4 separate regions of the Homo sapiens genome follow, and regions 1, 2 and 4 are each linked to region 3. The links come from fine-mapping of genetic effects on gene expression. A gene starts in region 3. Each other region holds a variant in brackets. All regions are shown on one strand. Distances are between the middles of the regions. Region 1 overlaps ADAP1 (ArfGAP with dual PH domains 1). Region 2 overlaps ADAP1 (ArfGAP with dual PH domains 1). Region 3 holds the start of ADAP1 (ArfGAP with dual PH domains 1). Region 4 overlaps ADAP1 (ArfGAP with dual PH domains 1).

What was found. PIP is the estimated chance that this variant, and not a neighbour inherited with it, causes the effect.
Region 1: its variant is fine-mapped to the expression of ADAP1 in whole blood (TOPMed, PIP 0.99).
Region 2: its variant is fine-mapped to the expression of ADAP1 in whole blood (TOPMed, PIP above 0.99).
Region 4: its variant is fine-mapped to the expression of ADAP1 in whole blood (INTERVAL, PIP above 0.99). The same link has a PIP of 0.9 or more in atrial appendage, thyroid and unexposed skin.

The regions. Positions count from the first base shown.
Region 1 is chr7:913,137-917,952 of GRCh38, reverse strand. The region is part of intron 4 of ADAP1 (ArfGAP with dual PH domains 1); the gene reads left to right. Among named protein-coding and RNA genes, the nearest start is that of GET4, 39 kb to the right of the region's middle. The variant T/G (reference allele first, on the strand shown) is at 2,657.
Region 2 is chr7:906,366-911,181 of GRCh38, reverse strand. The region is part of intron 4 of ADAP1 (ArfGAP with dual PH domains 1); the gene reads left to right. Among named protein-coding and RNA genes, the nearest start is that of GET4, 32 kb to the right of the region's middle. RefSeq lists a silencer at 2,048-2,267 and an enhancer at 2,782-3,480. The variant C/TC (reference allele first, on the strand shown) is at 2,157.
Region 3 is chr7:952,420-957,235 of GRCh38, reverse strand. ADAP1 (ArfGAP with dual PH domains 1) reads left to right here and starts at 2,556. Exons shown (of 11, transcript NM_006869.4): 1 at 2,556-2,840. The coding sequence starts at 2,759. LOC124901569 (a long non-coding RNA gene) reads right to left here and starts at 2,382. Exons shown (of 2, transcript XR_007060178.1): 1 at 1,972-2,382; 2 at 1,746-1,868. RefSeq lists enhancers at 1,663-2,272, 3,495-4,106 and silencers at 2,250-2,349, 2,205-2,360, 2,380-2,869, 3,160-3,369.
Region 4 is chr7:919,995-924,810 of GRCh38, reverse strand. It overlaps ADAP1 (ArfGAP with dual PH domains 1), which reads left to right. Exons shown (of 11, transcript NM_006869.4): 4 at 4,761-4,816. Among named protein-coding and RNA genes, the nearest start is that of ADAP1, 32 kb to the left of the region's middle. RefSeq lists enhancers at 1-62, 1,212-1,261, 1,852-1,911. The variant G/A (reference allele first, on the strand shown) is at 2,748.

The DNA.
Region 1 (4,816 bases), 39 kb after region 3:
CAAAAAATGCAAAATTAGCTGGGCGTGGTTGGCGCACATCTGTGGTTCCAGCTACTTGGGAGACTGAGGCGGGAGGATCTCTTGAGCCTGGGAGGCGGAGGCTGCAGTGAGCCAAGGTTGCACCACTACACTCCAGCCTGGACGTCAGAGCGAGAGTGTGTCTGTAACAAGAAAAAAGATGAATCGTATTTGTGAATCTCACCCCAAGAATAAAAGAAGCACCTTGGGAGGCCTAGGCGGGCGGATGGATCACTTGAGACCACGAGTTCGAGACCAATCTGGTCAACGTGGCAAAACTGTTTCTAGTAAAAAATACAAAAATTAGCCAGGTGTGGTGGCAGGTGCCTGTAATCCCAGCTCCTCGGCAGGCTGATGCAGGAGAATCGCTTGAACCTGGAAGGCGGAGGTTGCAATGAGCCGAGATTGCGCCTCTGCACTCCAGCCTGGGCGGCAGAGCAAAAGTCTGTCTCAAAATATGTGAAAGAGAGGCGGCCCTGAAATGGCTGAACACAGTCCTGGTGTTGTAGGTGGGTTCAGTGGAGAAGCCCCTGACCCCCAGTGCTCCAACCCCTCCCAGCCCTCCCTGGTAGAGCTGGCACTGCGCCCCCCTCCCGTGCACCTCCCCGGTAGAGCTGGCACTGCGCCCCCCCTCCCGTGCACCTCCCCGGTAGAGCTGGCACTGCGCCCCCCTCCCGTGCAACTCCCCGGTAGAGCTGGCACTGCGCCCCCCTCCCGTGCACCTCCCCGGTAGAGCTGGCACTGCGCCCCCCCTCCCGTGCACCTCCCCGGTAGAGCTGGCACTGCGCCCCCCTCCCGTGCAACTCCCCGGTAGAGCTGGCACTGCGCCCCCCTCCCGTGCACCTCCCCGGTAGAGCTGGCACTGCGCCCCCCTCCCGTGCACCTCCCCGGTAGAGCTGGCACTGCGCCCCCCTCCCGTGCACCTCCCCGGTAGAGCTGGCACTGCGCACCCCTCCTGTGCACCTCCCCGGTAGAGCTGGCACTGCGCCCCCCTCCCGTGCACCTCCCTGGGCTCTGTCAGGACCGTGGATTTTCTCCCAGGAGCGGCGTGGGGTGAGCAGGGGTGACCGGTGGGAGGCTGCCCCAGGCCTGAGCAAGGCACCTCCCCAGGTCAGGCTGGGGTCTCATGCAGCGGTCCTGTCGGCTCTGCCCTCCTCCAGGGCAGCTCCTGCCCCCCCAACCCCCACTTGGCACACAGCCAGCCTGTGCAGGCGCTGATTCAATTACTGTCTACCCAGACAGCAATTTCTTCCTCTCAAGAATCCCTGTGTGTGTGAGGGAGAGAGCAAGAAACGGTCAGGGGATGAACACGCGGGCACCTGGACCTGCTCAGCACCCAGCACACCCCTCGCTCCACTCCTGCCTTAAACCCCCAAAGAATCACCCCAGAGCCCCTCCGTTTCCCTCGGCAGAAACATCTTAGCAATTTGTAGCAAGGTGGCACGTGGCCTCACTTCAGAGGCAGGCATGGGCTGGGCTGGCGTGACCACAGGACTGAGTTTTGTGTCTGTTCTTGTATCAGAACCCTCTGGTTGTAAAGGATGGAAAATCCAACTTCACTGGGTGTCAGCAAAACTGGAAATGGATTGACTGGAATAACAGGGCACAGCTTGATCTAGGGGTTTAGCTGGTGTCGTTGGGACCTGGTTTCAGCACCTCTATCTCCTAGTTCTGCGTCTCTAGGTTGGCACCAATCCTCCTGGTGGCCACCTCCTTTGGCAAGTTTGGGTTTTACATCCCTGCTCTCCCGGGCTGCCAGGAAAGGTCAGGTGTGGCTCACAGAAGTGCTGGAAAAAGTCCCTGTCTCGTCACCTCTGACTGGTCGGGCCGGGATGTGACTTGGGAAACGTGGCGCCCTAGGTGGCGTGCCCGCCTCTGGCCCCTGGAGTGGCCCTTCTGGGGAAGATCAGGTCTGGGCTCCAGAAGTGGGGGTGCGTGCAGGTGGCAGACAGTGTCTCGTGGGCAGTGGGCGTGGGTTCTGCAGGCAGGTGGCAGACGGCATCTCGTGGAAAGTGGGCGCGGGTTCTGGGTTCTGCAGGCGGGTGGCAGACAGCGTCTCGTGGAAAGTGGGCGCGGGTTCTGGGTTCTGCAGGCGGGTGGCAGACAGCGTCTCGTCGGCAGTGGGCGTAGGTTCTGCAGGGGTATATGGGTGTCATTGGGCTCAGGGCCAGGAGGTGGTGACAGGCCTGGTGACCCAAGACGCCTCCTGCCCCAGGCCCGAGGCTGCCCAACTGGAATCCTGTTCCTGCCCCACTGGAATCCCATTCCTGCCTTTGCTGTTGTCTGAGATATTCCCTTGAGAGCATTTGAGATGAGCTAAAGCCTCCCGTGTGACCCTCGGGCAGGGGTTGGAGGGAGGGAGAGGCCTCCCAGCAGGGTAGAGTCGGGGCAGAGGTTTTCAGGCACACGCTTGCTCGCAGGGTCGGAGCCCAAGGCCTTGGCCTTGCCTGCCGGCCTCTGAAGCCCACGCTGAGTGAATGGCCGCTTCTCATACCAGGCCCGGCGGGGCGGCCACGTCCGCAGCACCAGGCTCATGATCTGCCTGTGGAGACCAGGCCGCATGGGCTGTGCCCTCTGTTCTCTCCCCTGGATGGGTGTGAGGATGGTGGGGAGGTGCACAGTGTGCATGAGGCACGGG[T/G]GAGGTACACAGACGAGATGTACGGGTGTGTGCGGCACAGGTGAGATGCACAGGCGAGGTGTGCAGGTGTGAGTGCAGGGCTGGCCCTTTGTGAAGGTGCCGTGAGTGCCGTGGCCAGGTGTTACCTGGCAGCAGGGTGGCAGCCTCTTGCAGAGGGCATGGGGTCGTAGACTGCGGCTGCTCCAGAGTGTGTGGCTGCTGTCTCCCTTGGGCCACGGCACCTTCCAGGTCGCGCAGGAGGCACCAGGCACGCCAGCCAGAGGGCCTCGGGCCCCAGAGCCCCGGCTGCAGGGAGGCTGCTGGGATCCCAGGGACCCAGAGGTGCTGAGTCGTATGGCCCTGTGCTCAGGGCCCACTGACACCCACCTGCTCAGGGCAGGGCTCACCCCTCCTTGAAGCCTCCCCTCTACCCTGCCCCTGCAGCCTGGTCAGTAGGCACGAAGGCCTGGCTGCTTCAGACGGCCAAGTGCCTGGGGACCAGCAGGCGGTGACTGTCTGTGCTCCAGGCTGCTGTCTCTGGGTGCTGTGCAGGGCGGGGTTCCAGGGCCCTGTGAGATGCCCTGCCTGTCTCCTTGTGTGTTCAGGGGCTCCAGGGCACCTCTCCCACAGACCTAGCTGCCCGCTGCTATTTGGAACCCTAGGTTCTGCCCTTTGCTGGATGGATGAGGGAGCAGGTGTCCATCTGGTGCTCAGGGTTAGACCTCAGGGACCCCCCGAGCCTCCCCATGGCCCCCACCCTGAGCCCATGTCTGGGTGGGTGCAGCAGCAGGAGAGGACGTGTCCTCCTGTCTGGGGCGGCCCCGTGGGCAGAGCCTCCTCCACAGGGCTCCAGCGCCAGTTGGCAGTTCCCGGGCCTCCCAACCCCTCCCAGAGTGCACTGGGGATTCCCGGCGGCGTTCCTGCCCTGCTCCCTGGCTTTGCCACCAGAGCCCTTTATCACGGCAGTGGCGACACCTCACGACCACAGGGAAATATAGAAGTCCCTGCGGCAGGGCCCGGGAGGAAGGGGAAGCTCGGGGCTTGGGAAGGGCCTGCCACACCCACAACCCCACGTTGGCCAGGTGAGGCCTGGGCCAGGTGGCTCCCGCTCTGCACAGAGGAGTGGCTGCAGGTCTGCCCTGGAATGAGCCGGAACCAAGAACTCCTAGAGGCTGTGCCACGCCCAGTGCCCACAGCCTGCACCTTGGCTGTGGGTGGAAATGGCCGGGTTGTTCTCACAGGGCGGGGGCCCCAGATGTCCTGTGTGTGGGCCACGCCACCCAGGACCATGGCTGAGGAAGGCGGAGCCCCACTCCATCCCTCTGTTAGGCCACCCAAAAGGAAGGATCACCACCGGGCTTTTCTGAAGGAGTTTTTTGTTTGTTTGTTTTTTCCTGCTCTGTTGCCCAGGCTGCGGTGCAATGGTGCGGTCTCAGCTCACCGCAATGTCCACCTCCCGGGTTCCCGCCATTCTCCTGCCTCAGCATCCTGAGTAGCTGGGACTACAGGCGCCCCCCACCACGCCCGGCTAATTTTTATATTTTTAGTAGAGACAGGATTTCATCATGTTGGCCAGGCTGGTCTGGAACTCCTGACCTCAGGTGACCCGCCCGCCTCGGCCTCCCAAAGTGCTGAGATTATAGGCGTGAGCCACCACACCTGGCCTCTGAAGGAGCTTTTAATGGCTAAAGCTGGGGGAGTAATTTGAGCAACAAAAGGAAGATGGTATAAGGGGATTATAACAGGGGAGCAAGGTACACACCCCCAAGTCCATAGACATATACATAAAGAATGGAACAAGTAAAGAGAAAGGGGAGGACCGGGCGCGGTGCCTCACGCCTGTAATCCCAGCACTTTGGGAGGCTGAGGCAGGCGGATCACGAGGTCAGGAGATCAAGACCATCCTGGCTAACACGGTGAAACCCCGTCTCTACTAAAAATACAAAAAAATTAGCTGGGTGTGGTGGCGGGCGCCTGTAGTCCCAGCTACTTGGGAGGCTGAGGCAGGAGAATGGTGTGAACCCAGGAGGTGGAGCTTGCAGTGAGTGGAGATCACGCCACTAAACTCCAGCCTGGGCGACAGAGCGAGACTCCGTCTCAAAAAAAAAAAAAAAAAAAAGGAAGGGGAGGAGGCCAGCAGCCTTTGCACACGAATTCCAGTTAATACAAAAGAAGGCCGGG
Region 2 (4,816 bases), 46 kb after region 3:
AGCCTCCCTGTCCTGGCTGTTTGGAGAGAGAGCTCCACGCAGGGCGAAGCTGGGACCTGGAGCCCTCCGCAGGATACGGCCCGCTGGTTCTCAGCCTCTGCCGGCCCCAGACGCACCAACCTGGAGAAGGTGCATTAATGGGTCGGAGAGCGTGGGTGGACGGGCCAGGCAGGGAGAGACGGAGCCCTGTGCGGGCTCACAGAGGAGGCCTTCAACTCTAAGGCCTTACCCAGCAAGGAGACACTGCTCTGCCGTGGGCTCCGGTGTTTGCCTCCTGAGGGAGGGCAGGAGCCACTAGGACCCAAAGGCCGGAAGCCAGGTCCAGGCCCTTCACAGGGACGGCCGGGGTGCAGTGATCAGGGCCTCGGCCCCGTTCTCAGAGGCCACCCATCCATGGTGCACCCCTCCCTGTGGAAGGCCAGAGGCCCCATGAGATATGGGGATGCAGTTCCCACCCCAGAGGGTCCACCACCCTGTGAGCTGTCACTCAGAGCAGGGCCACGTGCTTCCCTGCCCCAGTTTACAAGACAATTAGCATATAAATCACATACGTGAGGTGTGATTTACATCTACTTTGCATATCCTATTTAGAGTGCAGTCCCAGCTCTGACAAATCCAAGACCCAGCAGTCTCGGGCCAGGCGTGGGGCTCACGCTGCAACCCCAGTATGGTGGGAGGAGAGGCAGGAGGGTCACCTGAGCTCAGAAGTTCGAGACCAGCCTGGGCAACGCAGTGAGCTCCCATCTCTACAAAAAAATACAGAACTTAGCCGGGTGTGGTGGCGTGCATCTGTGGTCCCAGCTACTCGGGAGGCCAAGGCTGGAGGATCACTTGAGCCCGGAAGGTCAAGGCTGCAGTGAGCTGTGATAGTGCCCCTGCACTCCAGCCTGGGTGGGGAAAAAAAAAAAAAAGCCTCGTAAACGGGTGTGGGCTTTATGTGAAGGCTGTTCCTGTTTCCTCGGATTTCACTTCTCTCTGAGGCACGTGATGTGCGCGCTTCACTGTGGTGGAAGAAACGGCCTGGCTGCTTTCCAGGGACTGGGGCACCTTACATCCCCACGGGCAGCGTGGAAGGGCCGGCGTCCCCGCCCACAGTCGGGCGCCTGTGTGTGCACACTGGTTTGGTTTTGCCGTTCTCGTGGGTCATGGCGATGCTGAACGTCTTTCCTGCTCTTAGCCGTGCGGTGGGCAGAAGGGCTCCTCAGAGGCGTCTGAGCAGGGCATGGGGTGTGGACTGGACCCAGCTCCCCACAGGTGGGACAAGACCTGGCACACAGTGGGACCGGCACACAGTAGGGCCTGGTGTGCAGTAGAACCCCCCCCACCCCACACCATAGGACCCGACACACAGCGGGACCAGCTCACAGCAGGGCGCGGCACGCGGTAGCTGTTTGATAAATACTGGTCGAGTCCTGCCCCAGGACTCACGAGTCCTTTAAGAGAAAATGGCCATTTCTGGCCACAGCCCACCCGGCTGTCCAGGACGCTGCCGTGTGAGGGGCTGCTCTGTGGGGAGAAGCCCCGTCTCACTGGCTGTTGCTGGTGCCGACTGGGGGCTGCAGGCCCCTGAGGTCCTGGCCCTCCCCAGCGAGGCCAAGGGGCTGGCCAGGCATGGGGAGAGCAGAGGCTCAGCCTGAGGTCTGGACTGGGCGTGGGGCGCGTCCGGGACCGTGGCCAGCGCCGTCCTGAAATACACTCCTGCGTCGTCATTGCCCCTGGAATGCGGCGTCCTGGCGCCTGCTGTCGGGAGGACCGGGGTTCCCGCTGGCGCCTGCTGTCGGGAGGACCGGGGTTCCCGCTGGCGCCTGCTGTCGGGAGGACCGGGGTTCCCGCTGGCGCCTGCTGTCGGGAGGACCGGGGTTCCCGCTGGCGCCTGCTGTCGGGAGGACCGGGGTTCCCGCTGGCGCCTGCTGTCGGGAGGTCCGGGGTTCCCGCTGGCGCCTGCTGTCGGGAGGACCGGGGTTCCCGCTGGCGCCTGCTGTCGGGAGGTCCGGGGTTCCCGCTGGCGCCTGCTGTCGGGAGGACCGGGGTTCCCGCTGGCGCCTGCTGTCGGGAGGACCGGGGTTCCCGCTGGCGTCTGGACCCCGAGAACACCGGAGCAGCTGCGCGCGTGCAGAGGGGCAGTGGCCTCCCAGACCCCGCGGCCTGCGCGCTTC[C/TC]GGAGCACTGCTGTCACCTGCTGGGCGCGGCGGGCATGGCAGGGGCGCGTCCCCACCCTGTGGCCTAGGGAGCCCGGTCGCTGGAAGGGGCCCCCGCTGTGTCCTGGGCAGGGGTCTGTGGAACCGACACACTGGACCCAGCCAGCTCCACCCCCGTGGGCGAGGTGGCCCAAACTTGTCGTCTGCATTGGTGACACGGACACGCACGCCTTGGAGGCTCCCCGGGGTGCACACAAGGCCGTGAGCGGCAGAGGCCGGGAAGCGCCGCTGGGCCCGCTGCTGCGATGCCTCCCCGGGCACTTCTCGGCGTCCACCCTCAGCCACGAAGCGCCGCGTCCAAAGAGGTCCTGATGTCGGAGGCAGAGCCGTGGGGACACCCAGCTGTGCCTGGGCAGGGGCTCACTGAGTCAACAGGCGTTCTGAGCAGGCCTTACTTGGGTCTGAGGGACACTGGTGGCCTCGCTCTCACAGTGAGAAGCAGGAGAAGGGGGTTCTTCCATGGGAAGGGGGCTCCTGGCTGCTGCTGTGCGCACGGGGCTGGGGCAGCAGCCTTGTAGAGGCTTGGGGAGCGGGGAGCTCCGGGCAGTGAGGGGAGCAGGCCCCGTCTGGCACCATCCAAGACAGCCCAGGGCCCCCTCCCCGAGGGCACCAGCTGTCCCCTCCCCAACGCCAGGCGTTTTATGGCTTGCATCTCAGCAGAGAAAATAGCCCCTGGTCTCTGGTGTCGGGATGGGGCTGTCTGAGCTGGGGAGGGGATGCTGGGGAGCAGGGGGCTTTGGTGGTCAGGGCTGATGGGCGGTGTCTGCAATCTGAGCCTCTGTCTGGCCTGTTGGCTGCTGCAGGGGGCTGTTTAGCCCCGCCTGGAGCCCACAGCCCCCTCGCGTCCCTGTGGCGTAGGTCAGCAGCCCCTGCCCTCAGATGACCGGGGCTCCCAGGCCACATGGCCAGCAGGATGGGATGCTGTCCCCAAGCAAGTGCTCTCTGAAGTCACTGAGGGGTCACGGACAGGCCCACGGATGCTCAGCAGACGGCCCCACGACCCCGGGAAGGGCCCACGGACACTGGGCAGACGGCCCCGCGACCCCTGGAGGGGCCACGGATGCTCGGCAGACGGCTCCTCGGCAGACGGCCCCGCGACCTCCGGAGAGGCGGCGCCCACTGGGGATGCTTGGCAGACGGCCCCGTGATCCCAGGAGAGTCTGCACCCACTGAGGACCTGCTCGACCCTGGCCACGCAGCTGCTGCCAACGGCGGGACCTGCACGCGACCCAAGGCCTGGCAGACGGAGCCCAGGACACGGATGCTGCAAGCCACATGCTGTTGGGGCGGGACAGCCAGGGCCATAGAAGAAGCTGCATCTGAGTCCGCAGGACACAGAGTTCCAGAGCAGGAGAAAGGACGGGCAACGATAGGAACCACGGACAGGGAGCAGAAGTGGGAGCGGGGCCTGGGGGGGATGGGAACGCCCCTCTGAGTGGCCACACGTGGGTCACTGACCGCAGCTCAGTGACGTGAAGCCACACGTGTTTGTTCTCCCACAGCTCTGGCAGAGCTCCAGGACGATCCCACGGGCCCGAGACTCGGAGTGGGCAGAGCTGGTTCTGGGCTCAGGACGGGTCCTCTGGCCTCTCCCTGGTGCTCCTGGGCTCTGGGGCCCCCTCTGGCCTCAGTTTCCACGGCCACGTCCCCTTCCCTCCTGTCCTCATATCTCTGCCTCCCTCCCCTGTGATCGTCTGCCACAGCAGCGTCCTAACCACCCGTGCACGGTGTGTTTTGCCATAGAAGGTGGCGTGTCCAGGTGCTTAGGCTCCCAGGGGGATGCCCGGGCTACTTTTCTGTGGCTGTGTGTGGTGTGCGTGAGGCCACAGGCGGAGATGAGGGCTTGAGCTGGACTCCCCTCAGATGAGCTTTCCTGAAAAAAGAGGGGATGGCACCACCTGGACCCAGCAGCTGCGGACGGCTGAGGGAGGAGGGAGGAGGCCAGCCTGGTCCTCCCGGGCAGCACGAGGTTGGACCCAGCCCTGCCTCTGCCCATGGTGGCTCTGGCCATGTCCACTCAGGATGGGGAGGGTCCCTGGGGGCCAGTAAAGGACAGCTGGAGTCCCGCTCATCCAGGCCGTCCTCAGGCTGGCTTGGGCCAGGGTTGCAGCCAACAGCGCTGGTCCACTGTCATATCCCCTCACCAACCATCCACCATCACCATCTGACCCATGTCCCCCCATGTCCCCTGTCCCGTCCCCCGTGTCCCCTGTCCCCCATGTCCCCTGTCCATGTCCCCTATGTACTCTGTCCCCCATGTCCCGTCCCCGATGTCCCGTCCCCCATGTCCATGTCCCCCGTGTCCCCTGTCCATGTCCCCTTTCCCGCCCCCTTTCTCCTTTCCCTTTCTCCTTTCTCCTTTCTCCTTTCCCTTTCTCCCTTTCTCCCTTCTCCTTTCTCCTTTCTCCTTTCCCTTTCTCCTTTCCCTTTCTCCCTTTCTCCCTTCTCCTTTCTCCTTTCCCTTTCTCCTTTCTCCTTTCTCCCTTTCTCCTTTCCCTTTCTCCTTTCTCCTTTCTCCTTTCTCCTTTCCCTTTCTCCTTTCTCCTTTCTCCTTTCTCCTTTCCCTTTCTCCCTTTCTCCTTTCCCTTTCTCCTTTCTCCTTTCTCCTTTCTCCTTTCTCT
Region 3 (4,816 bases):
TGATGGCCTCCCCGTCTTTGGGGACCTTGGGTAACGGCTATGTTAGGGTGTGTTGCTTTGTTATATTGTTTTATGTATATTCCAGTCCTGAGGTGTGTGGCCTCCAGCAAGGGATCGAACCTCCCCGTGCCTCAGTCTTCCCAGCTGAAAATGGGGCTTTAATAAGAAAATACATGTCGGCCGGTCGCGGTGGCTCACGCCCATAATACCAGCACTTTGGGAGGCCTAGGCAGGCGGATCACGAGGTCAGGAGATCGAGAGCATCCTGGCTAACACGGTGAAACCCCGTCTCTACTAAAAATACAAAAAAATTAGCCGGGCGTGGTGGCATGCACCTGTGTCCCAGCTGCTGGGGAGGCTGAGGCAGGAGAATGGTGTGAACCCGGGAGGCGGAGCTTGCAGTGAGCCGAGATCGCACCACTGCACTCCAGCCTGGGTGACAGAGCAAGACTCTGTCTCAAAAAAAAAAAAAAGAAAAAAGAAAATACACGTCAAGCCAGGCGTGGTGGCTCAGGCCTGTAATCCCAGCACTTTCAGAGGCTAAGGCAGGCAGATCACGTGAAGTCAGGTGTTCGAGACCAGCCTGGGCAACATGGTGAAACCCTGTCTCTACCAAAAAATAAAAATATACCTGGGCATGGTGGCACCCATTTGTGGTCCCAGCTACTCAGGAGGCTGAGGCAGGAGAATCACCTGACCCCAGGAAGCAGAGGTTGCAGTGAGCTAAGATCGTGCCACTGCACTCCAGCCTGGGCGATAGACCAAAACCCTGTCTCAAAAAAAAAAAAAAAAAAAGGAAAAAAAGAAAAGAAAAGAAAAGAAAATAGAAAATACAAGTCAGGCTATTTCTCCTAATACCTAGTGCTGAGCTGCTGCTATTAATGTTCGTCTGTCTTTATTAGGCGACATTCTCCAAGCTCATGCTGTGTGGTGGATTCCGAGCCTGGCACAGGGACCCAGAGATGAAAATGCCACCTGTCCCCACCCCAAAGCCTCCCGTCTGAGGGAGGAGAAAGACCCATGTGAACGGTTACAGGGAAAGAGCACGTGATGCCACAGGGCACAGATCCCAGAGACACAGACCAAAACGGGCTGCCGCGTTCTGCTTCAGGTAGACAGAGCTTAAGCAGCTCCATGATTCCACGTCAGCTGGAGCAGGGGGACAGGTGCCTTTGGTGGCACTCTGGTCAGTGCAGCCTCAGTGGAGGCCATTCCACATCCCATACCATTGCCCCAGCGATGCCACTTTGAGAGCAAATCCACACAAAACTCTTGCAAAGATGAGGTTGTGTAGACCATGATTCTGATGCATTCAAAACGCTCTAAATGCCCCTATGCCAGTGACTGGGTGAACAAGTCATGGTTCAGTTGAACTTTTTTTGAGTTTGTTTGTTTGGTTTTTTTTTTTTTTTTTTTTTTTTGAAACGGAGTTTCACTCTTGTTGCCCAGGCTGGAGTGCAATGGCGCAATCTCGGCTCGCTGCAACCTCTGCCTGCCAGGTTCATGCGATTCTCCTGCCTCAGCCTCCCAAGTAGCTGGGATTGCAGGCATGCGCCACCACGCCTGGCTAATTTCTTTGTATTTAGTAGAGACGGGGTTTCACCATGTTGCCCAGGCTGGTCTCAAACTCCTGAGCTCAAGTGATCCACCCGCCAGGGTCTCCCAAAGTGCTGGGATTACAGCCGTTAGCCAAAACCCTGTCTCGATAAATGAATAAATAAATGAAAGGCTACAGGCCTCAGACGTTCGTTCTGGAAGGTGCTGAGGAATTTGTTAACAGTGGTTGCCTGGAAGGCAGTGGGGAGAGGCTTTCCTTTTTCAGTCTGGTATGTTCCAGTTTGTTTTCAGCCGGGTGTACTGCATTAACCCTGCAAGAAGAAAATGGAAAGAATTTGAAAAGATGCTGGGGTGTGCAGAGGAAGGGCACGCGAGTCTGGGAAGAGGTGACATCAAAACCAGGTTTTTTGTTACCTGTCAGCCCCCATGTGAAGTCCCGGCGGGGCCCCTCAGCCTGCCTGAGTGGGAGGGGTGCCCAGAGGGTCCCATCTGTGGGTGGTGGGCGGCTGGGTGGGTCTCAGGGGGAGGCTCCGTCTGGGCCCTGTGTGGCCTCAGTGCCCTGGGACGCTGGCGTTTGTCACCTGCTGGCCGTCCCTCCCAGGCAGGGATGGTGTGAGCGCCCTGGTCCTGGTCCGTAGCACAGGACACGCACACCTGCCTTCCACGAGCACCCCCATGCCCATGGTCTTGGGGGGCTCGGCAGGTGCCCTCTGCGCCCCCCACAGTAGGTGTGCAGGCTCCGTCCCACCGCGCGCGGCGGCACGAGGGTCCCACCCAGGCCGGCCAGGTTTTGGGGCGGCCTCGCGCCCAGGCAGGTGGGACGCTGCGCGCGGATGGGGGGCGGGCGGCGGGCGATTTCCCAGCGGGTCCCCGGGGCGCGCGGGCTGGGGGCGCCGGAGCGGCCGAGGGAGGAGGCCACACGCTCGCCTGCACCGCTGGGGGCCGCCCGCGGGCCTTGCCGGCCAGAGCGCAGCGTGCGCCCCGGGCCCCGCGCCGGCACTCGCTCAGCGACCGCGGCGGAGACACGAGCGGCGGCGGCGGAGCCCAGAGGGCGGCGGGAATGCGGAACCGGCGCGCGGGCTGAGGCCGCCCGGGATGGCGCAGGGGCGGCGGCGGCGGGCGGCCTGCGCGGGGCCCTAGCGAGCCGGGCTGACGCTCCCGGCCCCGGCCCCGGCATCGGCATCGCGGGCGCATCGCGGCCATGGCCAAGGAGCGGCGCAGGGCGGTCCTGGAGCTGCTGCAGCGGCCGGGGAACGCGCGCTGCGCGGACTGCGGCGCCCCGGGTAGGTGTGGGCCGGGTGGGCGCGGGGCCGGGTGGGTCCGGGGTGGGCGCGGGGTGCCGGGCGGGTCCTGGGTGGGCCCCGGGGACCGGGCGGGGGAGCGCGGACGCCGCGGGGGTGGCGGCGCTGAACACCGGGCCGGATCGGCGCTCGGATGGGGCCCGGGCCCGGCTGCACCTGCGGGGACCCGGACGTCTTCCCGGGCCGGGCGCAGCGGGGGGGCCCCCCCCAGGACCCCCGGAAACCCCCCTGCCGCCGCCTCCCCTCCCCCGCCGGGCTGCGTGTCTGACGGTCACCGCGGACCGCCCGCCGCGTTGCGAAAGCTCGGGCTCCGCACAGAAAGAGGAAATCGGGGCTGGCTGCAGGGAGGGAACGGGCCGCCAGCCGGAGGTCTCTGCTGGGCTGTGGGGTCCGCCGGCTCCGGGGCCACCTCGCGGTGACGTCATGCCTCACGCCCTTCCCGCACCGGGGGTCCCTGGGTGTGAGCGGCGCCCCTGCCCCCGGCTCCCTGCACCTGGCTGCTCCGGGGCGGGCGCCAGGACAGGTGAGGCCTGGGAGAGGTGGGGCCGGACGCAGGTCCTGGTCCACCCGCCGCCCGCCCGTTCGTTCTCCCGGCCGGGCATCCCTGACTCGGTTCCCAGGTCTGTGGGATTTCAAGGCACTGGAGTCCAAAGGCGCGGAGTCCCTCCCTTCCAGGCCACTGGTCCTGTCATTGGCTGTGAACGGGGCCCAGTGCCCAGACCAGCCCTGCCCTGCTCGGGAGCTGTCAGCCCCAGGCCGGCTGCGCTGTGGAGAGAGGGCCCCGCCGGAGCAGTCCCGCCACCCCAGGCACACCAGGAATCTGGGGGCCAATAGTCTAAGCCCCTCGGAACAAACCTAAACTCACCGGCGGTGACTGAGGCCCCCAGGGAGGGAGCGGGGGAAGACCTTGCATTTGCCTCCAAGGCCCTGGTTCAATATGCAGCCTCTGGACACCCCGGAAAAAGGGGTGTCCCTGATTCCCTCTGGGATGGAGGGGTCTCTGCCAGCCCCAGGTCGTGGTGGCTGCTGTCCAGCTGCAGCTTGGCTGGAAAGGCCACATCAGGAGCTGGGGTGTCCCAGAGGGGAGATAGCGACAGGCTTTTCTGGAAAGACAGGCAGGACCCACGGCCTTTCCATGGTCTCCTGAGACAGGACGGCCACAGGGCCCGTGCAATGGTGCGGTGGGGGTGGCCCCCTGGGCTGGCTCACCCCAGACTCTCTCCCCACAGACCTTTATTTCCTCCTGTTCAGGAACGCTCCCCAGGAAAGCCAGTGGGAAAGGGCCTGGCCTGGGGTTGCTGTGGCCCACGGGGAGGGGAGCTGGGCTTGCCTCTGAACCTCTGCTCCCTGGCCACACAGCCTGGGAGCAGCTTCTCTGGACTCAGGGCCCCTCTCCAGCCACCCTCTGGGCCTCCCAGCCTGGCAGGAGGAAGAGGGGACTTCCTTGGCCTGCTGGGTCCTTCAGTGGTCCTCCCCTCCCAGTGGGTGCAGGTGTGCCCGGCCCACCTGCTAAGCTTCCAGCCTGGCCCACCCCAGAGCTGTTCTCTGCCGTCCCTATGCCCCACGCTGCCGGGTAGAGGGCCGCACCTCTGCCTTTTCAGAATCTGTCCATGACCTCAGTGACTTGTCTCCTCTGTCGGGTAGCGCCATGGAGGGGGGATGCTGTGAGGGGTCACTCTCATTTCACAGCCAGGGAGACTGATGCCTTGCAAAGGGAGCTGTCTTAGGGGACATGAGCCACACCCGGCCGCTCTGCTTGTCCCCGCTCCCCAGGGCTGTGGCCACAGGGTGGAACAGGCGGTGTCAGGAGGCAGGGGGCTGCCTAGCCCCCCATGACCCCATGGCACATCCTCGAGGGCTCTATGCTTCTTTGCTGATGCCAGCTGCTCTGGGGCCTCCTGTACCTGCTGTGGCCCAGCTGGGTGACAAGGAGCCACTCCAGTGTTGATGGGGGCTGG
Region 4 (4,816 bases), 32 kb after region 3:
GTCACTGTCTCCAAGTTCCTCCCACTCCCTGGCTGTTCTGAGTCGGGACCGGGGGCTGACATGGGTGCGGGGGGCTGGGGGTGCTCGTGGACTCAGGGGCTGCTGCTGTTGGGTCCTGGGTGAGGAGACTCCCAGGGCTGACACCCACTATCTGGGGTGGGGTGTGAATCCCTGTATGAGCCGTGGATGCTGGGGCATGGCAGGGGTGCAGTGTGGACCTGCAGTATAACTTGGAGGGCGGGGGGTGCAGCGTGGACCTGGAGGGCAGGGGGTGCAGTGTGGACCTGCTGTGTAATCTGGAGGGCGGGGGGTGCAGCGTGGACCTGCTGTGTAACCTGGAGGGTGGGGGGTGCAGCGTGGACCTGCAGTGTAACCCGGAGGGCGGGGGGTGCAGCGTGGACCTGCAGTGTAACCCGGAGGGCGGGGGGTGCAGCGTGGACCTGCAGTGTAACCCGGAGGGTGGGGGGTGCAGCGTGGACCTCGAGGGTGGGGGAGGGGTGCAGCGTGGACCCGCTGTGTAACCTGGAGGGCAGGGGGTGCAGTGTGGACCTGGAGGGCGGGGAGGGGGTGCAGCATGGACCTGCTGTGTAACCTGGAGGGCGGGGGGTGCAGCGTGAACTGCTGTGTAACCTGGAGGGCGGGGGGTGCAGCGTGGACCTGCAGTGTAACCCGGAGGGCGGGGGGTGCAGCGTGGACCTGCAGTGTAACCCGGAGGGCGGGGGGTGCAGCGTGGACCTGCAGTGTAACCCGGAGGGCGGGGGGTGCAGCGTGGACCTGCAGTGTAACCTGGAGGGCGGGGGGTGCCTACATCCTGCCATTTTGTGGTCCGGCTCTGTGGCTCGTGGGGCCCAAACGTCCAGCCTGGCGAGGTGGGCAGGGGACTCGTCCACCTTCCTCCCACGTCTGCCCCCACCAAGATTCTCCCAGCCCCAGCAGCGCTGGTGCCCACGGCCTCCGTGCAGCCTGGACAAGCCCGGGTCTGAGTTGAAGGTCTTCAGGGGAAAGCTCTGCTGCACAGATGTCCGGGTGGCGTCTTCGCAGGAGCTAAGAGTGGCGGGCAGCGTCCGGAGCAGGGTCCTGGAAGGCCCCCCACGCCATGCCCTGCGGCCTCCCGGCACACACTGGGGTCCCTCCAGGCAGGTCGAGCACCGTGCCCACCTCCAGCTAAGCAGAGGCCCAGGGCCTCAGTTTGCCCAGCTATAAGAGGGGAGGCTGCACCCGCAGGGGAGGGCAGAGGGTCTCGTGTGCCCTCTTTATCTTCAGCACCAGCCTGTGACTCAGAGGCCGGGACCCGTCTCTTCCTGTGTCACCCTCAGAGCTCTCCAGTTTCTATCTTGACGTCGGGGAAAGAAAGTCGTGCGGCCGCTCTGCTTGGTTTTACTTCTGGGTGGAAACCGGCCCCTCCCTGCTTCCTGTGTGGTGAGGGGTGATCAGGGCGAGTGAGGGAAGCTGTGGGAGGAGCCCTTGGCTGCTGGCAGCACCGGCTGGAGGGCTCCTCTCTGCCCATCCCAGCGAAGCCCTGGAGCCCTCAGCCCCAGCAAGCCCCCCGTGGAGCAGGTGTCCGGGCTGGACAGGGCTCTGCATGCATGTCTGGGGCTCCTGGAACACAGCACCACATGCCCGGCGGCCCAGAGCAACAGAAATCTACTTTCTTCCAGCTCTGGAGGCTGGAGGCTCAAGGCTGCTTCTCCCGAGGCCTCTCCGGGGTGCTTCCTCACATCGTGGGCCCTGCGTACCTGTCTGTGTCCTAATTCCCCTTCCTAAGGACACCGGGCACGTTGGATTGGGGGCCACCCTGCTCCTGTGGCCTCATCTTAACTAATCTGCAACCACGGTATTTCCAAATACAGGCACACTCAGGCCCGGGGGTCAGGGCTCCCAGTAGGATGGGGTCGCGGTTCAGGTGGTAGCAGCCTCGGAAACACCCAGGATAGACAATGGGGGCGGGGGTGGCGGGGGTGGGGGTGTTGCTGAGAGGCAGGTGCGTGGGCGGGGGTGTGGGCGGGGGCGTGAACACCACCCGGGCTATTTTCCTGTAATAAAAAGGGAAAAAACCCATCTGGGTGAGCCACTGGTCCACCACGTAGAAGCAAAGCCGGGGGCCCTGGGGGGTCACTTTCGCAAGAGGCAAAGCCTCCAGGAAGGGTGTTGATGGTGTCCTGAACTCCATGCGGTGGAAACTGGCAGAACTCGGGCAGAAGGCACACTCAGGAGTGGACCCTCAGGGATGGACGTGCCAGCTGTGTGAACAGCACCCGCTATGGGGGTCACAGTGGCCACTGGACCCGTCCTGGGGAAAGCGGGGAGGGGTCTCCCATGGCATCTTGGGCTGGGGGAGCCCTGTGGGGAAGTGGCTTCTGGGGCTCAGAGCGTCTTCCCCTGTGAGTCCACACCTAGGGGAGGCAGTCGCCCTGAGCACCTGCCCGGCCCCCTGCCCCCAGCTCACATTTTGCTCTGCGTTGAGGGGACCCACCTGACCCTGAGGCCCTGGCCTTGAAGGGGTGGCCTAGGGGTCCTTGAAGCCTGGCTCCCCTGAGCCCTGGAACTTGGGGCACTTCCTGGGGCGTGGGCTGAGGTGTGGCTGGAGCTTTCCTGGTGGCTCTCCGTCCCGGCTGCCAGGTGGCCCGAAGCCCACCTCCTCGTGACCACGTGGGGTGTCAGTGCGGCCCCTCCAGGGCTGTGGGAGTCGGGAGGGCTCCGGGCAGTACTGGTTTTCAGGAGATGAGGGGCTTCCGGAGGGCTCCGCT[G/A]GGCAGGATGGGGTCCAGCCCCCGACTTCCTGGTGCTCACTCCCAGGCTTCCTCCTGCTGCTGCTGCTTCTGGAAGCTTCTGTGCCAGGCCCTGGGATGCCCTTGTGTGCGGGTGTGAGCCTTGGGGGCCCATTCTGCACCAGGGCAGGGCTGCCGACCCTGTGGGTGCCCCGCCCTGAGGGCCGTTGGCAGGCGTGGTTGTCAAAGCCGTCCCTGGCACCTGCCTCTCATCCACAGGCCCCCGGCTTCCACACATGCGGCCTTCGGTCCTCCCGTGACTCTGAGAGGCCGCTGTGTGACCCTGGGGTCATGGGACGCTGGGTGCTAGGGGGCAACTCCTCCGTGGTCACACAGCCGGAGCGGCTCAGGCAGCTGCACGGTGTCCCCCGAAAAGACGTGTTAAAGTCCTAACCCGCCGCCCCTGTGAAGGTGAACTCATCTGGAAATAGGGGCCGGACGCGAGGCTCACACCTGTAATCGCAGCCCTGTAGGAGGCCCAGGTGGGAGGATTGGCCTCAGGAGTTCCAGACCAGCCTGGGCAACAGAGTGAGCTCCCACCTCTACAAAAAATAAAAAATTACCAAGTCGTGGTGGTGCACACCTCTAGCCCAGCTACTCGGGAAGCCGAGGCAGGAGGATCCTTGAGTGCAGGTGTTGGAGGCTGCGTTGAGCTGTGATCGCACCACTGTGCCCCAGCCTGGGAGACACAGTGAGACCCTGTCTCTAAAAGAAAGAAAAGTAGGATCTTTGCAGATGTCTTCAGGTTAAGATAAGGTTGTGAGGTTGTCCTGGAGTAGGGTGGGCCCAAACCCCACAGGGAAGGCCAGGTGAGGACGGCGCCGAGGTGGGGGCACTGGCGGCTTCCAGGGGTGGGAGGGACCCTGGAGGAGATTCTCCCCAGAACACCTGGAGGGACCAGCTCGGCCGACGCCTTGATCTCAGACGTTTGGCCTCCGTGACCGAGATGATACATTTCTGTTGCTTTCGGGGACCGAATTTTGGGGTGATCGTTGTAGCAGGTGGGGGACACACACACACCTGGGGCCAGGGGCCAGAGACCCAGCTGGGACCCATCACCCATCAGATCCTGTGGGCGAGGATTCCCGCCCAGTCTCCAAGGCTGTTCACGTGGGCCCAGCAGGAAGCCACAGGGTTCCTATTTGTTCTTTGCCGCGTAATTCCCTGGGAGTGGAAAAGGCTGGGGCGGCTGCCTGTGCACCTGGGCCGTGCCGGGCCTGTGTGTGGGTCGTGGTTTCTGCAATGGTATTGGCTTCACTCGAGTGAGTCACGGTGGATGGGGAGGCCGTGGTGGGTGGCTCTGGGCAGGGATGTCTGGGCTCAGTGGGTGCCGTGGGGGGCCCTCGTCCCGGGCTTTACTCTCGGGGGCTTCTCCTCATCCCGGGTCTTCCTGGATTCTTGGGTATTTGCCGGTAGTTTCTCCTGATGCCCCGGACGCCTCCTGACCTCGACGGGTGCCCTGATAGCTCCGTCCTGTGTCTCAGAACCACGTGGAGGGCGGCACGGCGGGTGGAGGGCGGCACGGGGGGTGCAAGGTGGCAGCACGGTGGGTGGAGGGCGGCGCCGCGGCCACTTCCCAGATCCGGTCCAACGAGGTGGGGAGGGTCGGGGAGGGCCCAGGGGCGTGTGACTCGGGGTGGGGGGGCCTGGCTCAACCCCTGTACCCCAGCCCTGTGGGGCATCAGCTGAGGCCAAGGTGGGAAGGAGAGGGGAGGCACCAGCCCGTCCACCGGGAACGCTTGTGCAGAACGTGAGGCCTGATGCTCCGGGGGCCGAACGCACAAGAAACCAATAAACTAATATCAGAGTGAGAAGCGTCCCGGGCAGGAGGCTGACCCTGCATTTCTTCCGGGATCTTGTGCCCAGAGGGGCGGCTCGAGTCTGCCGGGGGTCCCTATGAGCCTCTTGAGATGTCCAGGGTCCGGGCCAGAGAGCGGCGTGTGCTGGGTCGGAGGCCGCCTTGGCCCAGTGGCTCAGTCTCTCCTCTCCCCACAGGCTCCTTCGAGAGCAGTGGATCCGGGCCAAGTACGAGCGACAGGAGTTCATCTACC